Linked DNA regions of Homo sapiens. The protein of the gene in region 2 purifies or fractionates together with the protein of the main gene of each other region. This does not show direct contact. Each region holds a gene or a part of one and is shown on either strand. Other genes may lie near its edges. The genes, in order: ATP6AP2, SERINC2, RAB21, VKORC1L1, CYRIB, MYOF and CNIH4.

Region 1 (4,359 bases), on a different chromosome or scaffold from region 2:
TTAGGAGTGCATCTATTCCAACTATCTTTTCTTGTTGACTTTTTTTGCTTTTAACATCTCTAAATAAGACACTTAAATTACATCTCCTGATTTTTCAATTTTAGGTCTTGTCTATTTACTATCCATTATAGAAAATGAGGCTTTAGCTCTCTCACATCACCAACCACTGCCCCATCCATGCGCTGAGCCATCCATGCGCTCTGCTTCTGTTTCTATCTCCCCACTCTTACCCAATAGTTATATCAAAATTTTCACTTGATCAGCATCATTTCATTATTATGACAATGCAAATAATACTCAGCCTAGCTCATACTACACAATCACTACATTTTCCTTGCTTTCCTTCTACTCTCATTCCTTTGTAATGACAGTGTCTTTTCTCCCTCACAGCTTTTAAGATTTTCCATTTCCTTGATGACTCTTCAATTTCACCGTATGTAGGTGTGGATCTGGCTTTTGCCTACTGGGTGTTCCATATGCTTTAAATCTGAGGAGTTGTTATCTTCTGTTTGTTACTATTTCCAAATACTTTTTATTTTATTTTTAACTGACAAATAGTAACTGTATATATTTATGGGGTACAATGTTATGTTTTGTTATAAGTTTACAAAGTAGACTGATTAAATCAGGCTAATGAACAAATCCATCACCTCACATACTTATATTTTTTTTGTGGTAAAAGTATCTAAAATCTACTCCTTTAGCAATTTTGAAATACACAATGCATTATTATTTAATATAGTCACCATTTTGTGCAATAGATCACTAAAGCATGATCCAGCAAGCCCACTTCTGGGTATATATATCCAAAGCAATTGAAGTCAGTATGCTGAAGAGATATCTGCACTCCCATGTTCACTGCAGCACTATTTACAATTTCTAAGATATGGATGGAAGCAACCTCGGTGTCCATAATCAAACGAATGGATAAAGATAATGTGCAGCTGGGTGCAGTGGCTCACACCTGTAATCCCAGCACTGAGATCCACTGGGAGGCTGAGGTGGGTGGATCACCTGAGCTCAGGAGTTCGAGACCAGCCTGGCCAACATGATGAAACCTCATCTCTACTAAAAATACAAAAAATTAGCTGGGCGTGGTGGCATGCACCTGTAATCCCAGCTACTCAGGAGGCTGAGACACCAGAATCCCTTGAACCCAGGAGGCAGAAGTTGCAGTGAGATGACATTGCGCCACTGCACTCCAACCTGGGCGACAGAGCAAGATTCTGTCTCAAAAAAAAAAGAAAAAAGCAGAAAGAAAATGTGGTATATAAACATAATGGAATACTATACAGCCTTTAAAGCGCGGGAAACTGTCATTTGCAACATGGATAAACCTGGAGGACATTATGTTAAGTGAAGTAAGCCAGGCATAGAAGGACAAATACTACATGACCTCACTTGTAAGTTGAACTCATAGAAGTAGAGTAGAATGATGGTTAGAAGACGCTGGGGGAGACGGGTGGATGGGGAAAGGAGAAATGTTGATCCAAATACCTTTTTTTTTTTCCCAGATGGAGTCTCGCTCTGTCACCCAGGCTGGAGTGCAGTGGCGCAATCCCAGCTCACTGCAACCTCCACCTCCCAGTTTCAAGTAATTCTCGTGCCTCAGCCACTGAGTAGCTGGGACTACAGATGCGTGCCACCACGCCTGGCTAATTTTTGTATTTTCAGTAGAGACAGGGTTTAGCCATGTTGGCCAGGCTGGTCTCGGACTCCTCGCCTCAAGTGATTCACCCGCCTTGGCCTCTCAAAGTGTTGGGATTACAGGCGTGAGCCATGGTGCCGGGCTCCAAATACCCTTTTAAGATATCATTTTATTATTATTTTCAGATTTAACTGCATTGTGGTCAGAGAAGTTAGTTTATATGACACTGATTCTTTATTGTTTGTTGAGATTTGCCTTGTGGACTACTGCACAGTAATTTTTTCTAAGTATGCCATGTGTACTTGGAAATAATCTATACTCGACCACAGGAAAGTCTGAAAAAAAAAAAAATCCCAAAACTTCAGCATCACATAGACCACAGTATTACAATGCAGTGAACTTAGAAATTTAAAAATTAGAAATTACTTTTTTAAAACCCATGCATTTGGAAAAAATACTTCTACATAACTCATGGGTTAAAGAATCACAATATAAATTATGAAATATTTTGAAGTATCAGCTAAAGCACCATGTATCAAAAATGTCTTATAACTCCCTCATAGTTTCTGTTCCTTCCTTTTTTTCACAAATTTTTTCTCTTTCTTTCTTTTTTTTTCCCCCTAGAGATAGGGTCTTGCTATGTTGACCAAGCTGGTCTCAAACTCCTGGCCTCAAGCAATCCTCCCATCTTGGCCTCCCAAAGCTGGGATTACAGGCGTGAGCCACCATGCCTGGCCCTTTTTTTCACAATTTTAATGTATGTATTTTTAGATCTCTTGGAAATTGGCCTATTCTCCGTAGTTCTAAGGAGATGAATTCTGTTTGTTGCACCTGTTTCTCATGGCATTTTTTTTCCTTCAGGTGCTTTGTAAATTCCACTCATCTTCCGTATTTGACCAAAGGAGCCCTTGGCTATGGAGATGTCCCTATGGGGCAGGTCATGTGAATTTGCAAAGAACCACTCTGCACAGCATAAGCCTATAATTCTAATTCTAATTTATCTCAGGGGACTCTTTGGGTCCAACAGCCAAGGGCAGCAAGCCAGCTTTACTAGTTTTACTAGTCTGCTTTTCAAGAACAAGTTGACAGCATTTCTAGTCCCTGGCTTTCTGCAGGAAACACAGTTTCAGCGTCAGCTTCTGCTCACCACTATGGCTTCTGAGTTTTCCATCCATATGTAACACCTGTGTATATCACCCCCTCTTGCATTCAAATTTAGTTATGCTAGTAAAAATGTTTTTTGTGACATTCTTTCAAGCACTTCTATATGCTTATAATGGAAGGAGGGCCTCTTAGATCAGCACAGTCACCCACATTGCCTGAATAGCCAGTGAAGGAGTAAGTGAGCCAGCAAGCAGCCTCCAGTGTCCTTACACACGAAAAGAGGTAAAATCCTGCAGGGAAGATGACAAGACAATGGCCAAAAAAACAGTAGCAGGATACAACCCCAACTGGTTTCTCCTTTAGTGGCTCTCTTTTTCAAGCCTCTGGCTATTCTGAGTGGGGCAATTTCTCTATCTCTTATCTTAAACAGTACTCTCATCCACAGAGAACAGCCAAGCCTCAGTTAATTACAATCATCATGTAATTTTCTTAAAAAGAAATTGTGTTTGTCAAAGAATTTCAAAAGAAACTGTGCATCAAAAACAGATAAGAGAAGTATGTTTAGAATGCAATTCATAATGACAGCTGACAAGGGAAAATGTAAAATGCATCCCTTTAATTTTTTATAATAAATACTCACATTCTCCAAAGGGTACGAAATGACACTGCCTGGGGGTAGAGCCAGTTTGTTCACTCCCTTCACCATCACCATGACGGTAGCCCGAGGACGATGAAACAGGTTACCCACTGCGAGTCCTGGCCAAGAAAGGTCCTAAACATTGAAAAGCACAAAGCGGTGCTTAATTATCAACTCAGGAACCCACCTCCCCAATAACATCTAATAAGCAGAGTTAAGGGGTTCTGAGATGACACTGACAAGGAAAATTCACAGGGAAAGTAAACATTTTATTTGTGGCAGTCGTTGCAATCCCCTAATCAAGAATGCTGATTTCTACCCTCTTCATTTTCTTAAAATTTTACAGATTTGAAATAAAGTCCAATAGTAAGTCATCTGACACCTTTTGTGGAAAAAAGCAAGCAAGTAAACAAAACATAGGTACCTTTCAAATTTCAGATCACAAAATATTTTCTTCATGTAGCCATGGAAATTTTCTTCCCCCACATCATTTTTTGCCCTCATATACAGCATCACTTTTATCTTTCACAGAGACATAGCAAGATGGTCATTAAAACATCCTCTTTAGACTAAGATCTTTATAAATAAAACAATTCCTACTAAAAGTAACTATCATTAGTTTACTAATAATTATTTCTCAGTTATTTTAATAGCCATCAGTAGTCAAGTTTAAGGTTGTAAAGAACTAGATGGTCAGGTGTGGTGTTCACGCCTGTCATCTCAGCACTTTGGGAGGCTGAAGCAGGTAGATTCCTTGTGTCCAGGAGTTCAAGACCAGCCTGAGCAACATGGCAAAATCCTGTCTCTACAAAAAATATAAAAATGATCTGGGCATGGTGTTGTACGCCTGTGGTCCCAGCTACCGGGGAGGCTGAGGTGGGAGAATCTCTTGAACCTGGGAGGTGGAGGTTGCAGTAAGCCGAGATCAGGCCACTGCACTCTAGCTTGGGTGATAGAGCGGGACCCTGTA
Region 2 (3,342 bases):
TCCCCCTGCCCTCAGTGCTGTGGCTCCTCTTGGCCCAGCTGACTCCTACACATCCTCCAGATGCCTGTCCTGCCTCCTCGGTGACCCCACAGGTCCCCGTGCAGCCCCACTAGTCACTCACCCCAGAACCCAGGAGAGCCTTAGAGACAGGCTGTGTCCCCAGCACCCATCCCCAGCACCTTCATACCTATTTTTTATCCCCACAAATGGAAGGGATGAATGGCCTGCAGTCCATCATCGTAACAAGACCAGGCCTTGGGGCCCTAGCCAGGAGCCTGTCAGTCTCCCTCACATCTCTCTGCCCTTGTGAGATGGGGGCTGATGTTATTTCTCAAGAACTCGCTGTGCCAGGCAGATTGCATGGGCTGCTTCCTCTGATCCTCACAACAGCCTAGGAGGGGTGGCATTGTTCCCATTGAATGAATGAGGAACCAGGGCCCAGAGAAGAGAAGGACCCATCCGGAGCCGGACAGCAGCCCCGCGGCTGCCGTGGTACGGAGGGATCTGGGCCAGCCTGGCTGACTCAAGAGCACATGCTCCTCCCCACAGCACCCCGAGGCCTGGGGCTTGACTGGTCAGGGCAGGTACCAACGGTGGTAACAATTCCAGGCAGGTCAGAGGTGGGCAGGACCTTGAGGCAGGCCCTGATGAGAGGGGACCTGAAGACCACCTTCTGGCCCTGTCATCGCCCCCTCCTCCCCACCGTGACTCTCTTTCACTGCCCTCCCTCGGATGGTTGGATGGTCGGGCAGCCTCCTGCTGGCCCCACTGCCTCTAGGGTCTCCTTTTCTGACCACCAGACACACCCTACTTTCCCAAAACCCTGGTCTGCCCCTCCTTCCTCATTGGCCCCCTCCCCTCAGGCGCTCCATGACCCAGAAGACAGAACTCAGGCCATTCTGTCTGCCTTTGAGGCTCCTCCTGGTCTGGCCCTGATGTCCCAGCCTCCTCAGCCCTAACATTCTATTCCCAAACCCCACACCGGCCCCCATGCAGTGGGGCTCCGTGCTGAGGGTGAGGGGCACAGAACATGGTACACGCACTGGCTTGTTTATTAGAAAAAGTCTTAGAGACTCAGTAAGGCACGAAGTCCAGGAAGTGGGCAGGGTCCCCTGGGGGACGTGACCAGGAACACCAGGGCTTCAGTGCCGGATGCCCCACTGTGGTGGGAGTTCCCCGCTCTCTCCAGCAGCCCCGCTCCCGTGGAGCCTGAGGACAAGGGAGCCCTTTCATCCGAGATGCTGAGTATGGGCAACAGGGAGGAGGGGAAGGAAGAGGCAGCTCCACCGTGTGGGTGTGGCGGGGGGATGGGGCTCTGCAGGAGCCTGATGCTCCTCGGACCCTGAAGGCACTACGACTAGAAGGCCCGGCTCAGGGGCAGGTCCTGGAGCTGGGGCAGGGGTGGGGGCTCAGCCTGGCTGATTGGTGTGGGGAGGGGGCAGGTTGGCTGTCACTGAGCCGAGAGGCACCAGGTGGCAGGAGGCACCAGATGGCAGGCTGTGAGGCTGCCTCAGCTGAAGTCGCGGTTGCGCAGGAGGAGTGGGGCTACCAGGGTCCACAGGTAGAGGAGCAGCCCTGCCCAGCTGGCACAGATCTTCACCCACACGGCGGTCCACGTGCTGATCATCTTCCGGGTCTCACCGGGCCTGGAACACACCATCTTCCCCATGAGCCTGGTGCCCAGTCTGGTGACTTCCATCTTGGCCCCTGGCCTTATGTCCCAGTTATGACCCCTGACTTCAACTCTGGCTCTTACCCTGTAACTCCAGTCCATCTCTGACATTTTTAACACCCGGCCTTGTGACCGTGGACATAGCTCCTGACCTCGATTCCCATCTTGAGCCCAGTGTTAGTCCATGAGATCATGACCTGACTCCTGGTCTCCAACCTTGTGATCCTAATTCTGGGACCTCAATCCTAGCCTCTGAACTTGGGACCCTGGAGCTCCTGACCTTAGTCCTGACCGCTACCCTTGATTCTGACCTTTGATCCTGTAACTTAGGGGTGGCCCCTGACCTTATTACTGTCATTTAGCTCCTTGACCTTGCCACTTCAATCCTGGCTTTATGACCTCCTACTCTCAATTTTAACTTTAACCAAATGACCAAATTTGTGACACTAAATGACCACAATCCCAGCCCCAGACCTCATGACTTCTATCCTTGACCTTGTAACTTTGGTTCTGCACTCCACACCCTGATCCTAACCCTCCAACCATGAAGCCCAAATCTGACCCCATGACCCCTGATTTGTAAACCCCGCCTGCCCTGTACAGGTCCAGCCCCAGCTGCTGTGCCTTCCCCGGTTCAGTCTCCTAGTGAAGGTGCGGGAGCTGAGCAGATGAAGGCACTGTTGGGGAAACTGTAGCAGGGAAGGGGCAGGCTCTATGGAGGGTCCTTGATACACACCGCCACCCCCAAGCCTTAAGCAGACATCAGGAAAACCCAGTGAAGGGCCGCAGGAGAGATGTGTGGACCTGCACCCTGCACCTCCGGGCTCTGTCCATGCCCCACCAGCTACGCACTTGTACCAGTTGGTGAGCGTCATCATGACGTGCAGTGAGGCCAGCACCAGGCAGAAGTGGAAGAAGGAGTAGCTGTAGGTGACGCCGTCCTGCTCGTTGTCAAAGGCCCGGCCCTCACAGGCTGCCACCTGCTGCTGCTGCTGTGTGGCGTCTAGCATAGGTGGGCACTCCTCGGTCTGCATCAGGCTGTTCACCTGCCGGTGGTCTGAGGAGCGCAGACTGCAGGGGAGGGAGGAAGGTGGGCAAATAGATAGCTCTGGCGTTGCTCATAACACTGGACACAAATGGTCCCAGAGCCTCAGAGGCCAGCGACCCGGTTACTGGGCCTGGGAGTTAACAAACTGCTTTGCCTCTCAACTCTACCCCTACCCCCACTCCCATTTTCTGTGTGACCTTGAGCAAAACACTTAACCTCTCTGAGCCTCTGATTCCTTGTCTGTAAAATAAGGGATAATCGTACCTCCTCTAGAGGGCTGCTGGGGGGACTAGACGGAATAATGATGTAAGGTCTCTAGCATAGTGCTTGGCACAGAATATAAATTCAATCAACAGTCACTATTGTTAGGATTGTTCCTTTGCCATTTCCATAAACACGTATCGAGTACCTAATACTACAAAGTACCATACCAGGTACTACATCCATTAAGAATGTTAATAATTAATCACGCTCATTTGCCATTGATTTTAAGTTTCCATTTTATTAGTGTCAGGTGGTTTTACCAATGGCCTCCCTTTCCTTCATGCTTACACTAAAAAAAGAACAACAGTAATGATTGTATGTCATGCTTTTCTGTGATGAGCCTTGATGTTTTTAACAG
Region 3 (4,359 bases), on a different chromosome or scaffold from region 2:
TTACACCTTTGCATCCTCATAGCTTAGCTCTCACTTATAAGTGAGAACGTACAATATTTGGTTTTCCATTCTTGAGCTACTTCACTTAGAATAATGGCCTCCAGCTCCATCCAAGTTGCTGTAAAAGACATTATTTCATTCCTTTTTATGGCTGAGTAGTATTCTATGGCGTATATATACCGCATATTCTTTATTCACTTGTTGGTTGATGGACACTCAGGTTGGCTCCATATCTTTGCAGTTGTGAATTGTGCTGCAGTAAACATGTGTGCATGTGTCTTTTTCATATGACAACTTCTTTTCCTTTGGGTAAATACTCAGTAGTGGGATTGCTGGATCAAATGATAGATCTATAATGCTTTTAGTTCTGTAAGTAATCTCCATACTGTTTTCTTTAGTGGTTGTTCTAGTTTACGTTCCCACCAGCAGTGTAAAAGTGTTCCCGTTTCATCACATCCACACCAACATCTATTGTTATTTTGACTAATTATGGTCATTCTTGTAGGAGTAAGGGGTATGTCATTGTGATTTTAATTTGCATTTCCCTGATAATTAGTCATGTTGAGCATTTCTTCATACGTTTGTTGGCTGTTTGTATATCTTCTTTTGAGAATTGTCTTTTCATGTCCTTTGCCCACTTTTTGATGGGGTTGTTTTTTTCTTGCTGATATGTTTGAGTTCCTTGTAGATTCTGGATATTAGTCTTTTGTTGGATGCTTAGTTTACGAACATTTTCTTCCACTCTGGGTTGTCTGTTTACTCTGCTGAGTATTTATTTTGCTGTGCAGAAGCGTTTCAGTTTAATTAGGTACCATTTATTCATTTTTGTTTTTGTTGCATTTGCTTTTGGGGTGTTAGTCATGAATTCTTTCTCTAAGCCAATGTCTAGAAGAGTTTTTCCAATGTTATCCCCTAGAATTTTTATGGTTTCAGTTCTTAGATTTAAGTCTTTGATCCATCTTGAGTTGATTTTTGTATAAGGTGAGAGATGAGGATCCAATTTCATTCTTCTACATGTGGCTTGCCAGTTTTCCTAGCACCTTTTGTTAAATAGGCTATCTTTTCCCAAATTTCTGTTTTTATATGCTTTGTCGAAGATCAGGTAAGTGTAAGTATTTGGCTTTATTTCTGCGTTCTCTATTGTTCCATTGGTCTACGTGCCTATTTTTATACCTGTTTGTTGCTATCTTGATGTTTCAGCTTTCTTCTTAAATATATTCATAATTTTATTTTTTAAAAAAGTTTTCTAAAGTTTTTTAAAAAGAGTTCTCCCTTGAAGAAAATGTCTATAAAATATTAAAAACTTAGGATTTATATCAAATGAGATGATTTACGAAACAGAATCTTTCCATAGAGCAGGGCTTAAGTTTTTCATTATGAAGGAAAAAAATATTTACTAGGGATCCTTTGATAATATGCTTTACTAGTGCATCATATATATGAGTTAAAATAATTTGATTAAGAAGGAAACTTAGGAGCATATCTCCTACTAAATTGAGTTATACCTGCATTGATTTACCTGGGCATATTGTAGATGTGCTTATCTATAATAACAGTATTTGATTGTCAATTATGGGCAGGGTACTATGACTTCCACCCACTTCTTCCACAAGAGTGGAAGTGTTAGAGAGCTCAGATCTCAGTCTGAGAAGTATCGTAGCATAGTAGTTATAATTAATATCTGGAGCCAAACTGCCTGGGATTTCAAGTGGCACTGTGTCACTTACTGTGTGACCTTGGGCAAGATATTTACCCTCCTTATGCCTCATTTTCCACATCTGTAATACATGGGTAACAATTATCTCTGACTCACAGGGTGTTATTGGCACCTGAGAATTAAGTGAATTAATATTTGAGAAGCTCTTAGAACACTGCCCATTTCATTGTAAGTGCTGTAGAAACGTTAAATAAAAATATGTAGTCTAGTTAACAGAATACTTATACCCATGAAAAGATAATTTATAGTATAAGACAGTATAAGCTGCAGTAAATGCAGAGTTGATTCCCTAAAATTCTTCAGGCTAGAAAAATTTGTGTGCATTGCGTGCATGAGTATAAGAGAACATGAAATTTCAAGGAAAAAGAGCCATATTTGGATAGGTGGAATTCAGATAGAGAACAGAGAATAGGCTCAAATTAGAGTGGAATTTTATGGACAGAAGAATTGAAGAGGATGCAAAAAAGCCATATAAGTTGGAGAATAAGTAAAGAAATATTGGAAGCTGTCCTAAGAAGATAGATGTGGACACGTTGTGGAAGTCTTTGGATATAAAGATAAGGCTTTGAGACTTTTAATTGTAAATGTGGGCTCCCCAACTTTTATAAAGAAGCAGCTTATGAATGATTTTGTGAAAAGTGCATAGCACAGTACTTGGCACAAAATAAACATTTAATAAATGTTAGCTAGTATTAGCAGCAGTAGTAGAAATGACTGTGTAGTGTTTTTACTGCATGGATGGCTATTTTTGTGAATTTTTAACTACTTACCTATTAATGAACACAGATAATTTCATTGTTTTTGTTTTTCTATATAATCAGTGTTGTCATGTGTACCCTTTCCGTACAAGTGTTTTTGTGTATCCATAGTTCCTTAATGGAGACTTAATACCGTCCTTTAAATTTGCCGTGGGAGAGTGGTGGGAAATTTCAGAGGGGATGGTAGAAAAGAAATGAGGCAGCTTTACCAACTCTGATGCACTCCCTTCTTCTGAGAAATCTCCACAACACTCATGACCAAAAGGTTATGATATTAGCTGTCAGCAGGGATGTTCAAGCATACTTATTAAAAATGATAACCTGTTAGGGAACCCTTCGATGAGTTGTAAGTTGTTGTTGTGGGGTTTTTTTTGTTTGTTTTGTTTTTGTTTTTGTTTTAACCAGGGAAGCTTTGGGAAGATAATATGGCATGCAGAGCGGGGTGTAAGGTGAACCAGAGGTATTTATGTTACGATATAATAAGAGACTGGTGGTCATAGACCCCAGAGGAAATGTGAAGACAAGGCTTGGTAGATTTTGGAGGCATATAGACTGACAAGGGCTTAAGAAGATATTTCCAAGTTTCTAAACTTCAATGAGAAGGCGAATGTGATCAAAATACTAAAGTCAGAATGAAAATCCAATTTTGGGGAGAAGATCGGTTCAGTCTTTCTTACATGTGTTTGAAAAAGAGGCACTTAAATTGACCTATCCATTAAATATTCGGATAGGATTCAGATTTTGTTTTTTTTCCATGTGGCATTGATATTGAAACCATGAAAATGATTGAGTTCAAATAAATTACACAGCTAGTATGTGGCAAAGCTGAGATTCAAATCCACAGGTTCTGCTCCAAAGTTCATATTCTTAGCTCCTATGCTAGCATGAATGGGAGAAGACATTTATTGTCATAACATGTATTTGGTCTTCTCATTTTTCAGGTTACTTTGCTGTTTTGGCATTTAATTTTTCTTCTTTTCTGTATAATTTTTATTTTATTTACAAAATATCTTGAGGATAGCTTGGGCCTTGAAGGCAGACATACATGGGTTTGAACCCAGCTCTGCCATTTATATTTATCTGTAGACTCCTTGGTTAATCACTACATCCAGTGGCCTTTTCTTAGTTCTAATTTTCTGTGGTGTGCCCATAGCAAAAAGACCTTCCTGAAATTGAGGTAAAAGAAATCTCAATTGTTTCTTTCCTTCAGTAATTCACCATCCTGACCTTTTATCTGTTTCACCTTCTTTGCACTTTCTTCTATATAAATAACACCTAAATGTGACTATCTCTATACAGGTCTGAACTCAGCTCTCTATTCCTTTTTTTTAAACACGTCAGCTGACTCTGGATTCTGGATATATTTTGTCTTCAGTAACTCTTGATACTCTTCTTTCTTTCCTATCTTCATGGTCTTAGTTCAGATCTCCTTTTTTATATTTTTCTCCAATTTTGTAAGTGTTCTTTCTACCTATCTTTTCTAGTCCAACCTCCCTTCCTATCCCAGGGTCATTCTCTTAAAATATAGATCTGTTTCCCCATTGCTTGAAACCATTCAGTGATTCTCCCTTGTCAGTAGTCCTGTTTCTTCAAACAGTTGTTCTTTAGGATGAATTTGGTATTTTTCCAGGAAAAAAAGGTTCAGTGCTATACAGAAGAAAATCAGGGAAAAAAAGTTCAAATGAGTTTGGGAAATGCTTGTATAAATACAGTCAGCTAGCCTTCCTTTTGGCAGCATCCTAATGTGTTAATGTGCATTGTTGGTGTATAAAAATCAATACATAGTATTTCCAAAGTATACTTGACGTGTGTGTGTGTGTGTCTAAATACATGTCTGGTGTCTTAGAACAGGTTTTGTTGAGACCCACAAGGTAAAGTCCATCT
Region 4 (4,359 bases), on a different chromosome or scaffold from region 2:
AAAAAATCTGGTTGATATGGTTATCACTCTATCAATATTAGATCTAAATGGAATTTAAAGTAGTGGTAAAAGGCTGGGCGTGGTGGCTCACACCTGTAATCTCAGCACTTTGGGAGGCCAAGTGGGAAGACTGCTTGAGGCCAGGAGTTTGAGACCAACTCAGGCAACAAAGTGAGACCTCGTCACTATGAAAAATAGAAAAAATTAGCTAGGCATGGTGGGGTGTGCAACTGTAGACCCAGCTACTCAGGAAGCTGAGGTTGGAGGATCACTTGACCCAGGGAGGTTGAGGCTGCAGTGAGCCATGACTGCACCACTGCACTCAGCCTGGGGAGACAGAGTGAGACAATGTCTCAAAAAGTTAAAGAAGAAAGAAAAGAAAGGAAAGAAAAAAAAAGGAAAGGAAAGAAAAAGAAAAGGAAAGAAGGAAGCAAGGAACGAAGGAGGAAGGAAGAAGGAAAAATAAAGAAAAGGAAGGAAGGAAGGAAAAAGAAAGAAAAGAAGGAAGGAAAAGAAAGAGAGAAAAGAAAGGAAAGGAAGAAGGAGGGTGGGAGGGAAAGGAAGAAAGGAAGACGAAAGAGTAGTGGTAAAGAGCTTGGACTCTTGAGCCAGACTGCCTGGGTTAGAATCAGGCCTCTGCCACTGTACTACCTGGATCAAGTGTTAGTCTGCGTTGCTCAGTTTTCTCATGTGTAAAATGGTGATAAAAGCTACCTGCCTCATGGGACTCTTGAGAGACTTCAATAATGTATGCAAAACATTTAGAACACTGCCTAGCACATAGTAAGCATTATCTGTAAGTATTAACATTTATCTCTACTACAGTCCAGATTCACTTCCTTGTGATATTTCTCTATTCCTCTTGGACTCTTTTCAGTTCAACCTGCTTCTGAAATTTCCATACCAAGAAACAATGATAATGTTAAGAATTTTATTTCTGAAATTTATCTTGGTTAGTCAAAACTACTAGAACAAATTCTCTTTTACGTACTAGCAGTTATTAACATTTCACTAAATATGAACATAAGCATTTAAAGTATGGGAGCAATGGAACGAATGCCAAGCAAAAAGCAGGCTATCAATAAGGATGCATACGTGATACTTCCATGTTAAAAAAAGGGAGGAATCATATGGTCACGTGGATGTTTGTCTATGTGTCAAACGGCTCTGAAAAGTTTCACAGCGGTCTACTGAGCGGGAGAACTGTCTGGTGGAAGGGATATGAAGGAGACTTTTCACTGTACATGCTTTGTTATCTTTCAAATCCGAAGCAGCGAATGCCTTACCTAGACAAGAATTTAATTTTTCTTTTTTTTTGAGACAGAGTCTCACTCTGTCACCCAGTCTGGAGTGCAGTGGCACGACCTCAGCTCACCACAACCTCCACCTCCCGGGTTCAAGTGATTCTCCTGCCTCAGCCCCTCTCAAGTAGCTGGGACTACAGGCGTGTGCCACCATGTCTGGCTAATTTTTTTTGTATTTTTAGTAGAGACGGGGTTTCACCATGTTAGCCAGGATGGTCTTGATCTCCCGACCTCGTGATCCGCCCACCTCGGCCTCCCAAAGTGCTGAGATTACAGGCGTGAGCCACTGCGTCCAGCCAAGAATTTAATTTTTAAAATGGGGGTGCAAAGGGGACTTTAAATAAGTACTCTGGAAGCCAGGTGTCAAGTCTCAATTTGCTACTACCTGTGCTATCTTGGGCAAGTCACTTAACCTCTGAGTCTCAGACAAAGCAAAGAGCAGTAAATACTTCTAGGTTCTTTTTTTTTTTTGTAAGACAGAGTTTCCCTCTTATTGCCCAGGCAGGAGGGCAGTGGCACAATCTCGGCTTACTGCTACCTCCACCTCCCGGGTTCAAGTGATTCTCCTGCCTCAGCCTCCCGAGTAGCTGGAATTACAGGTGCCCACCACCATGCCCGGCTAATTTTTTGTATTTTTAGTAGACAAGGGGTTTCACCATATTGGCCAGGCTGGTCTCAAACTCCTGAACTCAGGTGATCCACCCACCTCAGCCTCCCAAAGTGCTGGGATTACAGGCGTGAACCACTATGCCCAGCCCTAGGTTCTATTCTAATTCTAAAAGTTTTATTATCTCAATGGGGTAGTAAATAGATGGTACTTTTTTTTTAAGATATGGGAGAGGTAGTAATCCGACATTTTGTAAAATAAGGCAACTTTTTTATGGACTTGATTTTCAAATGCAGTGGACCCTTGAACAACACGGGTTTAAGCTGTGTGTGCTCACTTATACGTGGATCTTTTTCAACCAAATGCAGACCGAAACCTGCATATATGGAGGCCCAAATTTTCACATTCAGGTTCTGCAGGGCCCACAGTGGGGACTTGAGTATGCCAGGATCTCAGTAAAAACAGGGGTCCTGAAACCAATCCCCTATGGTATATGTTCTATACATAGACCATAGGACAACCAGACTATTTTTACAGTTTTAAGAAACATAGATTTGTCAAGCCTATTAACCTTTCCAGATCATTTGTACTATTCTTACATAGAAACCCTTCTTAGAGGGGGTCTTATATATAGAAAATACCTACATAGAATATTCTGCATATTACAGCTGGACACGGTGGCTGATGCCTATAATCTCAGCACTTTCGGAGGCTGAGGCAGGCAGATCACCTGAGGTCAGGAGTTTAAGACCAGCCTGGCCAACATGGCAAGACCCTGTCTCTACTAAAAATACAAAAATTAGCCGGGCATGGTGGTGGGCACCTGTAATCCCAGCTCCTTGGGAGGCTGAGGTAGGAGAATCGCTTGAACCCGGGAGGTGGAGGTTGCAGTGAGCTGAGATCATGCCACTGCACTCCAGTCCGGGTGACAGAGCAGCGAGACTCCATCAAAAAAAAAAAAAAGAATATTCTGCATTAGTTTCTCTTGCACAACTTCAAAATTGTTTTAAATGAACACATCTTTATACTATGCTATAAAGTCAGCAATAAACTACATTAAAACAATTAATGTTTAAACATATAAACAAGTATGTACAAGAAACTTATACTTAAAGGCATTTATTATCAAACACTGGAAAAAAAAGAACATCTCCAATCAATGGTAACAGCTATAACTGAGGACAGGCTTTATTTCAGGAACATACATGTATCACTTTTCATCGTAACACTAATCTGGCAAAGTAGGTTTTTTTGTTTTTCTTTTTTTGAGACAGGGTCTCTCTCTACCACCCAGGCTGGAGTGCAGTGGCACCATCATGGCTCACTGCAGACCTCAGCCTCTCAGGCTCAAGTGATCCTCACACCTCAGCCTCCCAAGAAGCTGGAAATACAGGCATGCGCCACCATGCCCGGTTAACGTTTGTATTTTTTGTAAAGACACGGTTTTGCCCTGTTGCCCAGGCTGGTCTGAAACTCCTGAGCTCAAGAGGTCTGCCAGGTGTCAGCGTCCCAAACTGCTGGGATTACAGGTGTGAGCCACTGCACCAGGCCCTAAGTAGGTGTTAAAAGCCCTATTTAACATAAGAAACTGAGGCACCATGAAGATAAGGCCACAAGCCTAAGAACTGGGAGAGGTGGAAGCCCACCCAGATCCCTTAGATTTGAGCTCAGTGTACCAAACCAAGGGGGCAGGGACTGCTAACTGAATGTTAGCTGGCAGGCTGGTGCAGGTTTGCAGCAGAGTTTTCACCGATTTATGGGAAAATGGGAAAAAGTAAGGACACGAAAGTAAACTTTTTTTTTTTTTTTTTAAAGACAGAGTCTCGTTCTGTCACACAGGCTGGAGTGCAATGGCGCGATCTTGGCTTACTGCAACCTCTGCATCCCAGGTTCAAGTGATTCTCCTGCCTCAGCCTCCCGAGTAGCTGGGATTACAGGTGCATGCTACCACGCCCAGCTTGTTTTGTATTTTTAGTAGAGACGGGGTTTCAGCATGTTGGCCAGGCTGGTCTGAAAGTAAACTTTTCCATATAGCTAAATGATTCCATTTAAAAATATTTTATTCTGAGAGATTCTGTTCTTTCAAATTGTTTGAATGGAAATATCCTTTTGTTAAATGAAATGATGGTGACAGGAGATAGTGGTGTGTTATTGTTTTTACTGGCTGTACATGGTAGAATTGAAAAATCAGCATTTCTATTGTAGCCTACTAATTTCGGTGAAATATTTCTTTAGAAATATAAAATCTGGAACTTTCCATCATTATGCCTCCCCAAAATAATAGAGGACTTTACACACAGATAACACCTGCCTCTCAAGATTCTCTCATTAATCTCTACCTTACCGTGTTTGGATTAAGACACAGGGCTTGCGAAATGAGAATAAAGTGAGTTTGAGCAATCCAAAACCACGTGCTGACTCTGGATCCTGGAAGATGATTTTCTTCAG
Region 5 (4,359 bases), on a different chromosome or scaffold from region 2:
GCTAGGGTGTTTGTTTAAAAGGAAAGTGCCTGAGTCCCAAGTCAGACCTGATTTTGTTGTTTCTAAAAGCAACATTTTATTTTCTAGTTTCCATTATCTATTATAATAGGAAAGAAAATGTACCAAACTGACAGGTGACTCTTGCCTCCGTGGTGCTTTCCTTCCCTCCCCTCTCCCTCAAACACAGATTACTTTGTGGGAGACTTCAACCCTGTCTTTCACTCGCCATCACTGGTCTCCTCTGCTTTCATTCTAAGGAAAAGGAAACTGAACTACCCTTAAAGTGAAACGTAGATTCTGAGTTAGGCATACTACCTTCAAGCTCAAGAAAGAATCCTAAAACCTCCTAGATCTCAATTACCTTCAAGTTTTTAAAAAAGATTTCCTGCCACTTGCTGGCTTCAAAGAGCCTGACCAATCAGAAAGACAAAGTCTTGGGAGAAAAATCAGGTTGACTGAGACACAGGGAGTATTCAGAAAGAAACCAAGGAGGAAAGACTCATGATATCATTAAATATTGGCAAAACCACTGAAGTATGCGTTGTAAAAACCCCAAGAATACAGAATTCTAAAAACTAGGCTTATGGTTAAAATAGTTTGACATTATAAGGATTTTAAATTATGTTCCTTAATCTTGCTGATGTTCATTTAGAATAGATCACCTTTATTCAGGCAGCTACCGCTTATGCAACACTTTTCATAATCTTTTAAAAACTATTTTTAAACATTTTTTCATAATCTTAATAAAATCATTTGACAGTTCCGCTTAGCTGAAATGATACAGCCTACATTTTATGTGGTAAATATCATTATATAAATATTTCTGTGTTCATGTAATTTTTGTGTTTAAACCCTCAAAAAATCAAGTAATGGGACATCATCTTTTATGTCATGTGAATACTACCAATTAAATCTCTGTAGTCAAATGTTATAAAGTATCGAGATTTTCATTTAAAAATGTTCTAGCAGCTGGGCACAGTGGCTCATGCTGTAATCTCAGCACTCTGGGAGGCCAAGGTGGGTGGATCACTTGAGGTCAGGAGTTTGAGACCAGCCTGGCCAACATGGTGAAACGCTGTCTTTACTAAAAATACAAAATACAGGCACATGCCTGTGATCCCAGCTACTCGGGAGGCTGAGGCAGGAGAAGCACTTGAACCTGGGAGGCCGAGGTTCCAATAAGCCAAGATTGTGCCACTGTACTCTAGCCTGGGTGACAGAGCGAGATTCCAACTCTAAATAACGAAATAATGTTCTAGCATTTGTAGAAGTTTGAGCAACTAAATTAAGTAAAACTAATCTAAGAAAAGACATTAAATAATGACTACTTAATTTTTATTGTAGGAAATACATAAAAATAACAGAACACAAGTCTGAGCACAAATGTAATTACATTCTATTAAGAGGAAAGAGCTAGTTACAAGCCACTTTGTAAGATATTATTTTGTAAAAAGATAACTACTACATAGAGCTATTATCTATATATGTAAAGAAAAAACTCTGGAAGGCTATATGCTAATAGTGGCTTATCTCAAAATGGTGAGATTACATTATTTCTTTTTATTTACATTTTCTTATGTTTTCTGAATTTTATTTATAACTGGTATATAATACTTTTATTACAAAAACAAGCAATCTCTGTTTGAAGAGAAGCAACAAGTAAAAGCCAAAATCTTCAACCAGAAAATGAAGCTGCTATTGTCATGTGTCCCACACATTCCTCATCATAAAATACCGTAACCAGTGTTTGGAAGCAAGATTATCAATAAACAAAATAAGATCTTCATATTTCTAGCTTGAACACTTATTTTTATATCCTATTCACACTTAATGCATTTTCTTTACATAAACATCGACCATTTTCCTTACAGATTTTTTCTGTACATACGTACACGTACATATACACACCTGAGAGCATTTAGAAGACCTTCCACACTATTAGGAGGTTGGTCCTTAAGAACTTTGATACAACCTTTCATCTAAAGAAAAAGAAAACAGAAAAGGTAAAACAGCCATTTTTTTCATGTAACATTCCTTTTCAAAATAGTAAAATAAATCAAGACCATAACTATGGAACTCAAGAGATTACATACTATGTCAAATTAATTATTCTTAGAACAGAAAAAAACCCAACCTAAGAGTTATTATTCTCACTTAGTGAAAACAAAATCTTTTTGAGAACAAAATCAGTCAAACTAATATACCACACATGCAATGAAAAACAAACGGTTTGCTAAGGGAAGACTTCTGGAAAAGGTGCTGAGTGGCGATTTAAAGGACAGAATGGGCTGGGCAGGGTGGCTCAGGCCTGTAATTCCAACACTTTGGGAGGCTGAGGCGGGCGGATCACAAGGTCAGGAGTTCGAGACCATCCTGCCTAACACGGTAAAACCCCGTCTCTACTAAAAATACAAAAAAATTAGCCAGGCGTGGTGGTGGGCGCCTGTAGTCCCAGCTACTCGGGAGGCTGAGGCAGGAGAATGGCGTGAACCCAGGAGGCAGAGCTTGCAGTGAGCCGAGATCGCACTACTGCACTCCAGCCTGGGTGACAGAGCGAGACTCCGTCACAAAAAATAAAATAAAATAAAAAATAAAGGACAGAATGAGTATGTTACTAAGGAAAAGAAGAACTTTCAGGTAGAGAAACCTCACAGAGTAAAGTATCACACAGAGGACAGATAGGAATTTTTCAGCACTGCACCTGGAGTTATGAGAGGCTGAAAGCCAGGATGAGTTATACGAAGTGTTATGCCTGGCAGCAGGGGACTCACAGGTTATTTTAAAAGGTAACCACTTGATGACGATGGTATTTAAGATATATTAGCCTGGTTGTTATAAAAAAGCATAATACAGCAGAAAGAACACAGGCTTTGGAAGCCAGAGAAATGTGGGTTCTACCTTTTCTAGCAACTCTTTTTATTTTTGAGATGGAGTCTCGCTCTGTCACCCAGGCTGGAGTGTAGTGGCGCAATCTTGGTTCACTGCAACCTCTGCCTCCTGGATTTAAGCGATTCTCCCACCTCAGCCTCCCGAGTAGCTGGGACTACAGATGTGTGCCACCACACCCAGCTAATTTTTGTATTTTTTTTCAGTAGAGATGAGGTTTCACCATGTTGGCCAGGCTGGTCTTGAACTCCTAACCTTAGGTGATCCGCCTGCCTCGGCCTGCCAAAGTGCTGGGATTACAGGCATAAACCACTGCACCCGGCCTACTAGCAATTCTATTACTTGATCTGCTAAACTTTAGTTGCCCTGTCAGTAAAGGGAGATGACACCTAAAAGAGTATTTTCAGAGTCACAAGGGAGAACAAACGTAAAATTCCTGGGACATGGCAACCATACAGTAAATATTAACTCATTTCTCTTTACATATGACAGGTGTACATGAAGGCAACAAGCTTGGCTAGTAATCAGTAATCGAGATCCGAAATGCTAAGAGCCTAAACTAGCTATGAAAGGGAAACGGGAAGACAATTCTCACCAAACACTAATGAACTAGATGTGAGAGGTTGGGGAAAGAAACTACGAAGTAGAGAAATTAGAAAACTATTTCTAATACAAACTTTTACAGAGAGAAGAAAAGTCGAGAGCCAACTATAGTCACAAATTATTATGACTAGGTAGGGGAGGGAAAATACATAAAGTCTTCATCTTTTTCCACTGGAGCATCCTACTGGCTGTCTTTTTAATTTCAAGACAGGGTCTCTCTCTCACCCAGACTGAATGCAGTGGTGTGATCGTGGCTCACTGCAGGCTGGAACTCCTGGGCTCAAGGGATCCTCCCACTTCAGCCTCTCAACGTAGCTGTGACTACCGATGTGTGCCACCACACCTGGCTAATTTTTTTTTTTTTTTTGTAGAAATGGGGGTCTCACTATGCTGCCCAGGCTGGTCTTCTACTCCTGGGCTCAAGTGATCCTCCTGCTTCAGCCTGCCAAAGTGCTTGGGCTACAGGCATGAGCCAGCACGCCCAGCAGCACTACTGACTTTTTATATGCATTCTGAAATAAACATTTTATTTGAAATGGCCTTTGGCCAAAGGAATTAAAGGATATGACTCAAAATTCCTTATATCTAATTATCTATTTATATTGCCAAATACGTAGTAGAAGCCTTCCAGGAGGTACTCACTAGACAATATAGTCATCCTTTGATCATTCTATTCCACCTGAATACAGGCCACAAGAAAAACAGCACAGGGACAGAGGAGATGAAAGTCCACCATTTCACAAACTATAAATCTGAGTTTTGTGAGAGTCCGGTTTGCTGGCTCTTATCATAAAATAAAATCCTATGGTTTCCATGGAGAAACTCGTTTGAAATTATTTATATAAAACAATAACTTACATCAATTTTGGA
Region 6 (4,359 bases), on a different chromosome or scaffold from region 2:
TGAGGACTTTTTACGAAGTTTGAATAATTCAAAATCACTTCTTAGACAAACACTAGAAACAATTCCACAGGATTTACAGTCTTAGAATTTCAGGGAGGAGCGCCTGGATGAAAATTCTGAGATAGGCGTAAGATCACTGTACCTCGTGTCTTCTATAACTTCATCTATCAGCTTCAGCCACAATTCAGCCAGCTGGTTTGCAGGAATTTTACCTTGTATCCCTGATTTTAGAGCTTCTATATTTGTTTGCTGAAGAATTTGAAAAGAGAGGAAATAATTGATAATTGTTCATTATGCCATTATACCTTTTCATATAGTTTAACCTGTGAAATCATGTAAATATTTTTGTATATTCAAAAAACAAATAAAATGAAACCAGCAAAGATAGGAGAGGGAACCCTAAAGTGGAATATAACCAGAAATAAAACAGATCTAATTACATTTCAGATGAATAACATAATTACACTAAACTAACCCAAGTAACTTTTGGAACACAGTATTTTGACTATGTACACTTTGTTAAAAGGCAGAAAAAAAAAACCCATAAACATATTGAACTCTAATTAGTAGGCTTATTTTTCACAGTGGTTTATCTACAGATTTTAGGATTGAACCAAGGAGTAAATATATTGAGGATAACAAAGGCCAGATTTCTCACTGTTGGAGAAGAAAGTTAGAGACATAGAAATACAGAGGACTAGGATAAACCTTGTGGTATTGGACTGGAATTGGAAGTATCTTTATGAAGTCATAGCTTTTAATATATTGATAGATATAGAAATAAATAGACATACATGTGTCTGTGCAAATTCGTTTGCTGAGAAGGCCTAGAAGCAATGATATTTCAGTAGTAGTGAGCACTGTATACCCAGATTTTGTTTCTAAAATGCTATTCCCCACTCAAAGGAAAAAGCTGCTTGGAGAAATAGCGATTTACGGACTGGGGCAGAGAAAGTACAAGATAAGCTCAAAACATATGGTTCTATTCCATTGAGCACCTGCCAACAGAGAAGTTGAGGAAGAGCCTACCATGACTGTCAAAAGTCCTAATCAGGGAAAAGGGAAAGCCACCATCCTGTCCAGATTAGGCAGCCTGGTCAGTGGAGAGAGCTGATAAGAAGAACCAGGATGAAAATTGCTGAAGAGCATCTCAAACACAATTAGAACACAGGTGCAACTAATTCTCCACAAATGCCTTTGAGATGTACATTGCCTATCAATTGCAACTTTATTTTCAGGACAGTTATGATTAAGTCAATTTAAACCTATAGTTATCCTCCCAGATTGCCTTTATAACATAAAATGATATTTCAGATTTTGCCGTCGAGTTTTAGATCAAGTATACTCCTGAAACCCCATATGTTTTGGTCCAGCCCTGGTAGAGATTAGATCTTTAAAAAATTAATATTAACATAATGTTGAAATCAAAACACCAATGCCAGATGGATTTTAGCACTACCTGATAGGAGTAACTTAGTATATGTGTATATGTGTGTGTGTATGTGTGTGTGTGTATATATATATATATATATATATGTATATATTTATCTTTTTAGACAGAGTCTCAATTTGTCCAGGCTGGAGTGCAATGGCGCCATCTTGGCTCACTGCAACCTCCGTCTCCCGGGTTCAAGTGATTCTCCTGTCTCAGCCACCCTAGTAGCTGGGATTATAGGCTCACATCACCATGCCCAGGTAATTTCTTTTGTATTTTTAGTAGAGACAGGGTTTCACCATGCTGGCCAGGCTGGTCTCTAACTCCTGATCTCAAATGATCTGCCCACCTTGGTATCCCAAAGTGCTGGGATTACTGGCGTGAGCCACTGCACCTGGCCCAAGTAACTTAGTATTTTTGCTTAATTAGAAATATCACAGACATATCCCCCTTCTCCTCACCAATCTAGTTGACCAATGTCAACTAGACAGATAATCACAGATATCATATGTATGCAGTTTTCACCCAAGGAAATCCCCAACCTCCAAACAAAAGAAGTTCCTCTAGTCTGCAGCAAGAGTGGAATGTGTCAGACACTGGTTCCTCAAAGCTACCTCTTCCTGCAGTGGAGATTTCCACTGCAAAGTTCTCAGAGTTTCATATTGCTATTGGAATGAACCATTCTCTCTACACAAAAATTACGGCAGAAACTATGAGTTCCTGTTCCACCCCACTCCTACCTTTTTAATCCTCCCCTCTTCCAAAGTAAGAAAATTTTTATCTGGGCATATGCCTGCCCAGGCATAAGACTAACATTTTCCACCTTCGTTGGAGTCACATGTGGCTGTATGACTGGATTCTGGCCAGTGGAAAGTGAGTAGAAATTAAGAGTATGACTTCTGCATCCTTCCCTTCAAGAGAAAGGCCTATGTCATCTTCTCCCCACTGTTTACCAGCCCTCCCCTCAGGCTGGAGGGCAGATGTAGTAGTGAGCTGCCTCTACCATGCAGACAATGATAACTCCTGAGTGATGGCAGAGCAACCGGGGGTAAGAGCCTGGGTCTCCAATACCACTGAACCTCCATACTAACTTAGGACCATCTACCTCCACTGTTCCTAGAGACATTGCTCTTACCTTATTGATCACTGTACTAAGCACTTTCTTGTGTTATAGTGGCCTGGCCTCCATCCTAATACCTAATTCACCCTGCTTGGTGAAAAGGAAATGCAGAAAAAGAGAAACTTACCAGCCGTTCTGCCATAGCTAGGAGAGTGTTCACCGCATCCAGGCGATGACTAATATCCTCCCAGTATGAAGTCAGGGTAACAACTGGCTTGGTGTGGGCCCAAGGCAAGTAATAATAGTAGTTGCCTGGTATAAAACATTGGGGGTCAATGAACACTGAACACTTAAAATAGACAGCATGTTTATTAAAGAGATGTGCAGACTGAGCTGCTGATTAATCCACAGGCTTGGGGAATAGCTTGAGGTGGTCTGGTTCTTTAATTTGACTCAATTAAGCAACTGAAGACTAGGAAGCTCTTTTTCATTCAGGCTGTTCTGAAATTTTCTCTGAGACACCCTAGTAAACTGAGCACAGCAATCTCAGGATCGTTTAGTGATTCAGGGCCATGCATCTGAACATCAAAGATGGTTTCTTAACGTGGTAGTAGAAAATACAGATGACATAGGAAGCTAGACTGAACATGTTAGTCCCTAAAAACTGTTATTCTAAATAAATGTTTTTGTTGGAACTGGGGCAAAAGAAAAGAATTTTCTGTTCTTGGAAAGCTTTAGCTGGCTACATAGGGTTTGGTACTAGAGCCTTACTGTGATTAAGAATTATTAGCTGATGTTTCCTAGGATGTCTTACATTTTAAAACTGCTTGTACAAAAATTAAGTTAAAACTCTGGCAATACTGTTGGGAAATTTGATCAGTATTCCTCTCTCCCTTCTCTGTACTCTCAAACCATTTGTTGACAGTTTTATTGGAAGTTCTCATACTTTGCTTTCTATTATGATTTATTTTATACACTAGAATGTAAGCTCCTTAAAATCAGGGACTGTTTCTCACCCATCTTTGTTCAAATACAGCTATTTAATCCTCATGTCAACTCCAGAGAAGACGAAGAAACTGAGGGTTAGAATTCAGTGACACGGTTAAGGTCACAAGCTGGTGAGTAACAGAGTGAAGACCAGAAGCATGATTTCCCAGTAGCTGATCCAGAGTCCCATTCATTTTCCACTACTCAGCCTAAGAAAGATTTGGGGCTTCGTAGGGGTAGGAGCTGCTTTGCGGAGCTCAGAACTTAGCACAGTGGCTACCTTGGGGTCTTACATGGCAAAACCATTGTTAAAGCTGGGTGGGGAGAGGGTAGCATTGGGGTTCAGCCTCTGGCAATGGGACCTGCAACTTCTTGGGTCTGGCCAGTCTTTAAGGTGCCTGAACCCCAACCACACTCTCTTCCTCATTCAACCTTTTCCTTTCCACTAACCATAGGCTGCGTAGAACAGTGCCAGAGGGAAGACACAGTGCTTGCTTCCGGTCCCGTGGTGCACCCATTGTAAACGTGTGGAGAGAACTGTTAGTGCCAATCTTACCATCAAATACAGCACGGCTGTACTGAGTTGTTGATGCCAAAGGCTTACAGGTGGTGTCAAACTTGTTGCCATAGTTCCCAATGCTGACTTCAAACTGAATGGCCTCACCAACATCTTGCAACATGGTGGCTGAATGAAACACGGCAGACAGGCTGTACTTCCGCCTTCGCTGGTATTTCTATAAAGTATGAGCAGACATAAGGTTCAGTGAAAGGCCATTTGTTCTTATTTACATGTGGATTTCTAGGAGACGCAATTCTACACCTAATAATTAGTGCTGAATTAAATGACAGGGGAGAATGTTCTTGGACCCAGCTGTTC
Region 7 (4,359 bases), about 190 Mb from region 2:
GAAGGCTTCAAACCCAAACCAATTTTATTAAGTTCTTAGAAACTTCATTATGGAAACAGGGAAATTAAGGAAGTTAGGTTACTTTGAGAGGATCAATGAATTTAAGTGTCTGGGCTTCAACATCCAGACTGTGTCATCTGTGTAACATATATGTCCTAACCTAGCACTGTCCATGAATTCTTCCTGCTCTCACGTCTAAGCTTCTTCTAGTACAACCTTAGTTGTCACACAGCTTCTCAATTATCACTTCTTTGAAATGCAAAGGACTCTCTGAGTTCCACAAATCTGAAATTCTCCCTTAAAACCCCAGTAGCCCGACTATAGCTGAATAGAGGGTATTTTCATTTGAATATCCAGATAACATCTCATCCTTGTCTAATTTCTAGGTTATCTAATAAGAGTGTCACCATTTTCTTGGTGGTCCTTAAAAACTTCCTCTTACCCAACTGGGACTTCTCTCTTCCTCATCTTTCATAGCCAGTCCATCAAACCCTTGTCCAGTCTTTCTTCCTACCACCACTTACTTAGCTGTCTTTTTTTTCCTTTTTGTATTTTTGTTTTATTTTTAATTTTTGTGGGTACACAGTAGGTATATATATTTATGGGTTATATGAGAGATTTTGATACAGGCATGCAATGTGTACTAATCCCATCAGGGTAAGGCTGGGCACAGTGGCTCACACCTGTAATCCCAGCACTCCAGGAGGCCGAGGCGGGAGGATTGCCTGAGGTTGAGTTCAAGACCAACCTGACCAACATGGAGAAATCCCATTGCTACTAAAAATACAAAATTAGCCAGGCGTGGTGGCGCATGCCTGTAATCCCACCTACTCAGGAGGCTGAGGCAGGAGAATCGCTTGGACCCGGGAGACGGAGGTTGCAATGAGCCAAGATTGCGGTATCACACTCCAGCCTGGGCAACAAGAGCAAACCTCCGTCTCAAAAAAAAAAAAAAAAAATCACATCAGGGTAAACGGGGTATCCATTACCTCAAGCATTTATCCTTTGTGTTACAAACGATCCAGTTATACTTTTTTAGTTTATTATTATTATTATTTTTAGACGTAATCTCGCTCTGTTGCCCAGGCTGGAGTGTAGTGGCAAGATCTCGGCTCAGCGCAACCTCCTCCTCCTGGATTCAAGCAATTCTCCTGCCTCAGGCTGCGGAGTAGCTGGGATTACAGGTGCCCAACACCACCATGCCCAGCTAATTTTTGTATTTTTAGTAGAGATGGGGTCTCCCCGTGTTGGCCAAGATGGTCCTGAACTCCTGACCTCAGGTGATCCTCCCACCTCGGCCTCCCAAAGTGCTGGGATTACAGAAGTGAGCCACTGCGCTCATCTCTAAAACACACAGGAATAATTTAAAACAGGACTATATAAGGCTTCCAGTGTCTGACAGCCAATCTTTCATATTAATTCTTACTTCCAGTGCGTTATAACTAGAAGACTGATACAACTTTACCATAATAGACCATTCAGCATACTGGAGAATGAGCATCACACCTAAATTACTTATTGCCAAGAAAGATCAGCACAATTTGGATAAAAGTAGCTGAGAGCTGTGGTATGATTCCCCAAAGACCATGAGTGGGATGGTCGCTGAGGCACATATATTAATGCTTATAACAGGCAGGGGAACTCTACAGCTGTATACTACTAGGGCAGGAAAAAAATATCAAAGACAGTTTTTGGTATTTTTTTGATATCAAAAAAAAAAAAAAGACACACACAGTAAAAAGTGTTGGCAAGGATGTAGAGAAAATGGAACCCCCAATACACAGTTGATGGGAATGTCAAATAGTGCAGCTGTGGCTGGGCACACTGGCTCACACCTGTAATCCCAACACGTTGGGTGGCTGAGGTGGGAGGATCGCTTGAGCCCAGGAGGTCGAGGCTGTAGTAAGCAAACATCACGCCACTGCACTCCAACCTAGGCAACAGAGTGAGACTCTATCTCGAAAAAAAAAAAAGTGCAGCTGCTTCTGAAAACACTCAGGCAGTCCCTCAAAAGGTTAAATATAGAGTTACTATATGACTCAGTGATTCCACTCCTAGGTATTTTGCCTCTTTGTCCTGTGGACTACTGTACTTCATCTCCAACAGCATAAAGTATAGTGGTCTGAAAATAGCAAATAATCTATCTGTTGATTTTTTAAACCTTTTTAAATAGAAGGTAAACTTGTGACCAGCAGACAGCCAACCTGTCACTGCAGTTACCAGGGCAATAAATATACATGATCTTTGTCTTTATTTTATAATTATATTTAAAAAAGAATCTCCAGTGTTTCTGTTTGTTTTTTTGAGGCTGGGTCTCGCTCTGTTTCCCGGCTGGAGTGCAGTGGTGCAATCTCGGCTCACTGCAACCTCCGCCTCCCAGATTCAAGTGATTCTCCTGCCTCAGCCTCCCAAGTAGCTGGGACTACAAGCGCATGCCACCACGCCCAGCTAATTTTTGTATTTTTAGTAGAGATGCAGTTTCTCCACGTTAGCCAGGGCTGGTCTCGAACTCCTGACCTCAGGTAATCCACCCACCTCAGCCTCTTAAAGTGCTGGGATTATAGGCATGGGCCACCACGCCCGGCCTAAAAAAAGAATCTTTGGACTTGACTTCATAGAACCTTTTACCACTATCTACAAAGAAGCCATGCCAAAGCTGGCTCTTCTAGCAGGTTTTCATTTCTAGTAGAGATGACTGACAGTATGGTCTGGTATAACATTAAGATCCTCATTCTCAAAGATTCGAGTCCCCATTCTCACTCCCAAAGTTGTGTTTCACTTAAGTGAAACTACAGGTAGACTTAGCTGTGCTAAAAGTCTGTCTGGGACTAGCCCGCAGCAGAAGTGCAAGTAATCTGTGTTCCCAGCTCAGAGCTCACTTTAGGGCGTTGGTCTATGGAACTGATCATGGGAGAGTACTACTAAGCTTGAAAGAGGCCAGGTGCGGTGGTGTGCACCTGCAGTCCCAACTGCCCAGGAGGCTGAGGTGGGAAGATCGCTTCAGCCCAGGAGTTCAAGGCTGTAGTGCACTATATCACACCTGTGAATAGCCATTGCATTCCAGCCTGAGCAACACAGCAAGACTTCATCTCTTAAAAAAAAAAAAAAAATTCAGAACCCATGTTCAGTATATTAAAAAATGAAAAAGAAAACAAAAAATTCGACCCCAGGGTACCCACCCTCTAGAAAAGAGACACAGATATTTTAAAGCTTTTCCCTCACTCAGATTCTAGTTTCATGACCTTTATAAAATCATTCCCCCATATCCACTCCTTCCCTCACCTCTACTGCTGCCATTATCTTTTCATGTGCATCCCATCTTCCTCCAAACCCTACTTTATTTTTTTCTGTTCTTTTTATTCTAACTGCACTTTACAACATCATACTTAAAAAACAGCCAATGAATGGTCCTGTCCCAAAAAACTAGACATAAATAAAAATGAAATAAAACCTAAAAATGTAGTAGAGCAGCAACCCACTAATATAACAATTACAGGCTTGTCAAGATTATCCCAGCGGTCTTCACAAGAAAGTATGCTATGTCTAATAACCCAACTATAAAATTATATACTTCAGGGTTTCCATTGAGCTCATTTTGAACAAACTTCCTAAATTTATTAAATAAAAAATTTTGATTAGTTACCTAATTTGCAGCTTTTTTTTTTTTTTTCTTGAGACGGAGTCTCGCTCTGTCGCCCAGGCTGGTTGCAGTGGCGTGACCTCAGCTCACTTCAAGCTCCGCCTCCCGGCTTCACGCCATTCTCCCACCTCAGCCTCCCAAGTAGCTGGGACTACAGGTGCACGCCACCATGCCTGGCTAATTTTTTTTTTTATTTTTAGTAGAGATGGGGTTTCACCGTGTTAGCCAGGATGGTCTCGATCTCCTGACCTCAAGTGATCCACCCACCTCAGCCTCCCAAAGTGCTGGGATTACAGGCGTGAGCCACTGTACCCAGCCCTAATTTGCAGCTTTTAAACGTACTTCCAGCCCGGCGCTGTGGCTCACACCTGTAATCCCAGCACTTTGAGAGGCTAAGGTGGGCGGATCACTTGAGGTCAGGAGTTTGAGACCAGCCTGACCAACATGGTGAAACCCTGTCTACTAAAAATACAAAAATTAGCCAGGCACTGTGGCAGGCACCTGAATCCTAGCTACTCAGGAGGCTGAGGCAGGAGAATGGCTTGAACCCAGGAGGCGGAAGTTGCAGTGAGCTGAGATCAAGCCACTGTACTCCAGCCTGGGTGACAGAGTGAGACTCCATCTCCAAAAAAAAAGAAAAAAAGCTCTTAAACACCTTTTTTGGCTCACACCTATAAATAATCCCAGCCCTTTGGGAGGCCGAGACCAGCAGATCACCT

Evidence for each region.
Region 1: the proteins of SERINC2 (region 2) and ATP6AP2 purify together in Homo sapiens (affinity purification with mass spectrometry; one large-scale study listed by BioGRID and IntAct). This does not show direct contact.
Region 3: the proteins of SERINC2 (region 2) and RAB21 purify together in Homo sapiens (affinity purification with mass spectrometry; one large-scale study listed by BioGRID and IntAct). This does not show direct contact.
Region 4: the proteins of SERINC2 (region 2) and VKORC1L1 purify together in Homo sapiens (affinity purification with mass spectrometry; one large-scale study listed by BioGRID and IntAct). This does not show direct contact.
Region 5: the proteins of SERINC2 (region 2) and CYRIB purify together in Homo sapiens (affinity purification with mass spectrometry; one large-scale study listed by BioGRID and IntAct). This does not show direct contact.
Region 6: the proteins of SERINC2 (region 2) and MYOF purify together in Homo sapiens (affinity purification with mass spectrometry; one large-scale study listed by BioGRID and IntAct). This does not show direct contact.
Region 7: the proteins of SERINC2 (region 2) and CNIH4 purify together in Homo sapiens (affinity purification with mass spectrometry; one large-scale study listed by BioGRID and IntAct). This does not show direct contact.

Annotation. Positions count from the first base shown.
Region 1 is NC_000023.11:40,590,399-40,594,757, reverse strand, and holds part of ATP6AP2 (renin receptor precursor), read right to left. Parts: intron 3,525-4,359; coding exon 3,393-3,524; intron 1-3,392. UniProt on the Homo sapiens protein: Multifunctional protein which functions as a renin, prorenin cellular receptor and is involved in the assembly of the lysosomal proton-transporting V-type ATPase (V-ATPase) and the acidification of the endo-lysosomal system.
Region 2 is NC_000001.11:31,432,368-31,435,709, reverse strand, and holds the end of SERINC2 (serine incorporator 2), read right to left. Parts: intron 2,744-3,342; coding exon 2,525-2,743; intron 1,647-2,524; coding exon 1,511-1,646; 3' UTR 1,032-1,510; downstream 1-1,031. UniProt on the Homo sapiens protein: Non-ATP-dependent, non-specific lipid transporter for phosphatidylserine, phosphatidylcholine, and phosphatidylethanolamine. Functions as a scramblase that flips lipids in both directions across the membrane.
Region 3 is NC_000012.12:71,764,652-71,769,010, forward strand, and holds part of RAB21 (ras-related protein Rab-21), read left to right. Parts: intron 1-4,359. UniProt on the Homo sapiens protein: The small GTPases Rab are key regulators of intracellular membrane trafficking, from the formation of transport vesicles to their fusion with membranes.
Region 4 is NC_000007.14:65,875,866-65,880,224, reverse strand, and holds part of VKORC1L1 (vitamin K epoxide reductase complex subunit 1-like protein 1), read right to left. Parts: coding exon of another isoform or gene 4,256-4,359; intron 1-4,255. UniProt on the Homo sapiens protein: Involved in vitamin K metabolism. Can reduce inactive vitamin K 2,3-epoxide to active vitamin K, and may contribute to vitamin K-mediated protection against oxidative stress.
Region 5 is NC_000008.11:129,844,896-129,849,254, forward strand, and holds part of CYRIB (CYFIP-related Rac1 interactor B), read right to left. Parts: coding exon 4,348-4,359; intron 1,980-4,347; coding exon 1,909-1,979; intron 1-1,908. UniProt on the Homo sapiens protein: Negatively regulates RAC1 signaling and RAC1-driven cytoskeletal remodeling. Regulates chemotaxis, cell migration and epithelial polarization by controlling the polarity, plasticity, duration and extent of protrusions.
Region 6 is NC_000010.11:93,377,181-93,381,539, forward strand, and holds part of MYOF (myoferlin), read right to left. Parts: intron 4,217-4,359; coding exon 4,039-4,216; intron 2,808-4,038; coding exon 2,683-2,807; intron 250-2,682; coding exon 143-249; intron 1-142. UniProt on the Homo sapiens protein: Calcium/phospholipid-binding protein that plays a role in the plasmalemma repair mechanism of endothelial cells that permits rapid resealing of membranes disrupted by mechanical stress. Involved in endocytic recycling.
Region 7 is NC_000001.11:224,366,276-224,370,634, reverse strand, and holds part of CNIH4 (protein cornichon homolog 4), read right to left. Parts: intron 1-4,359. UniProt on the Homo sapiens protein: Involved in G protein-coupled receptors (GPCRs) trafficking from the endoplasmic reticulum to the cell surface; it promotes the exit of GPCRs from the early secretory pathway, likely through interaction with the COPII machinery.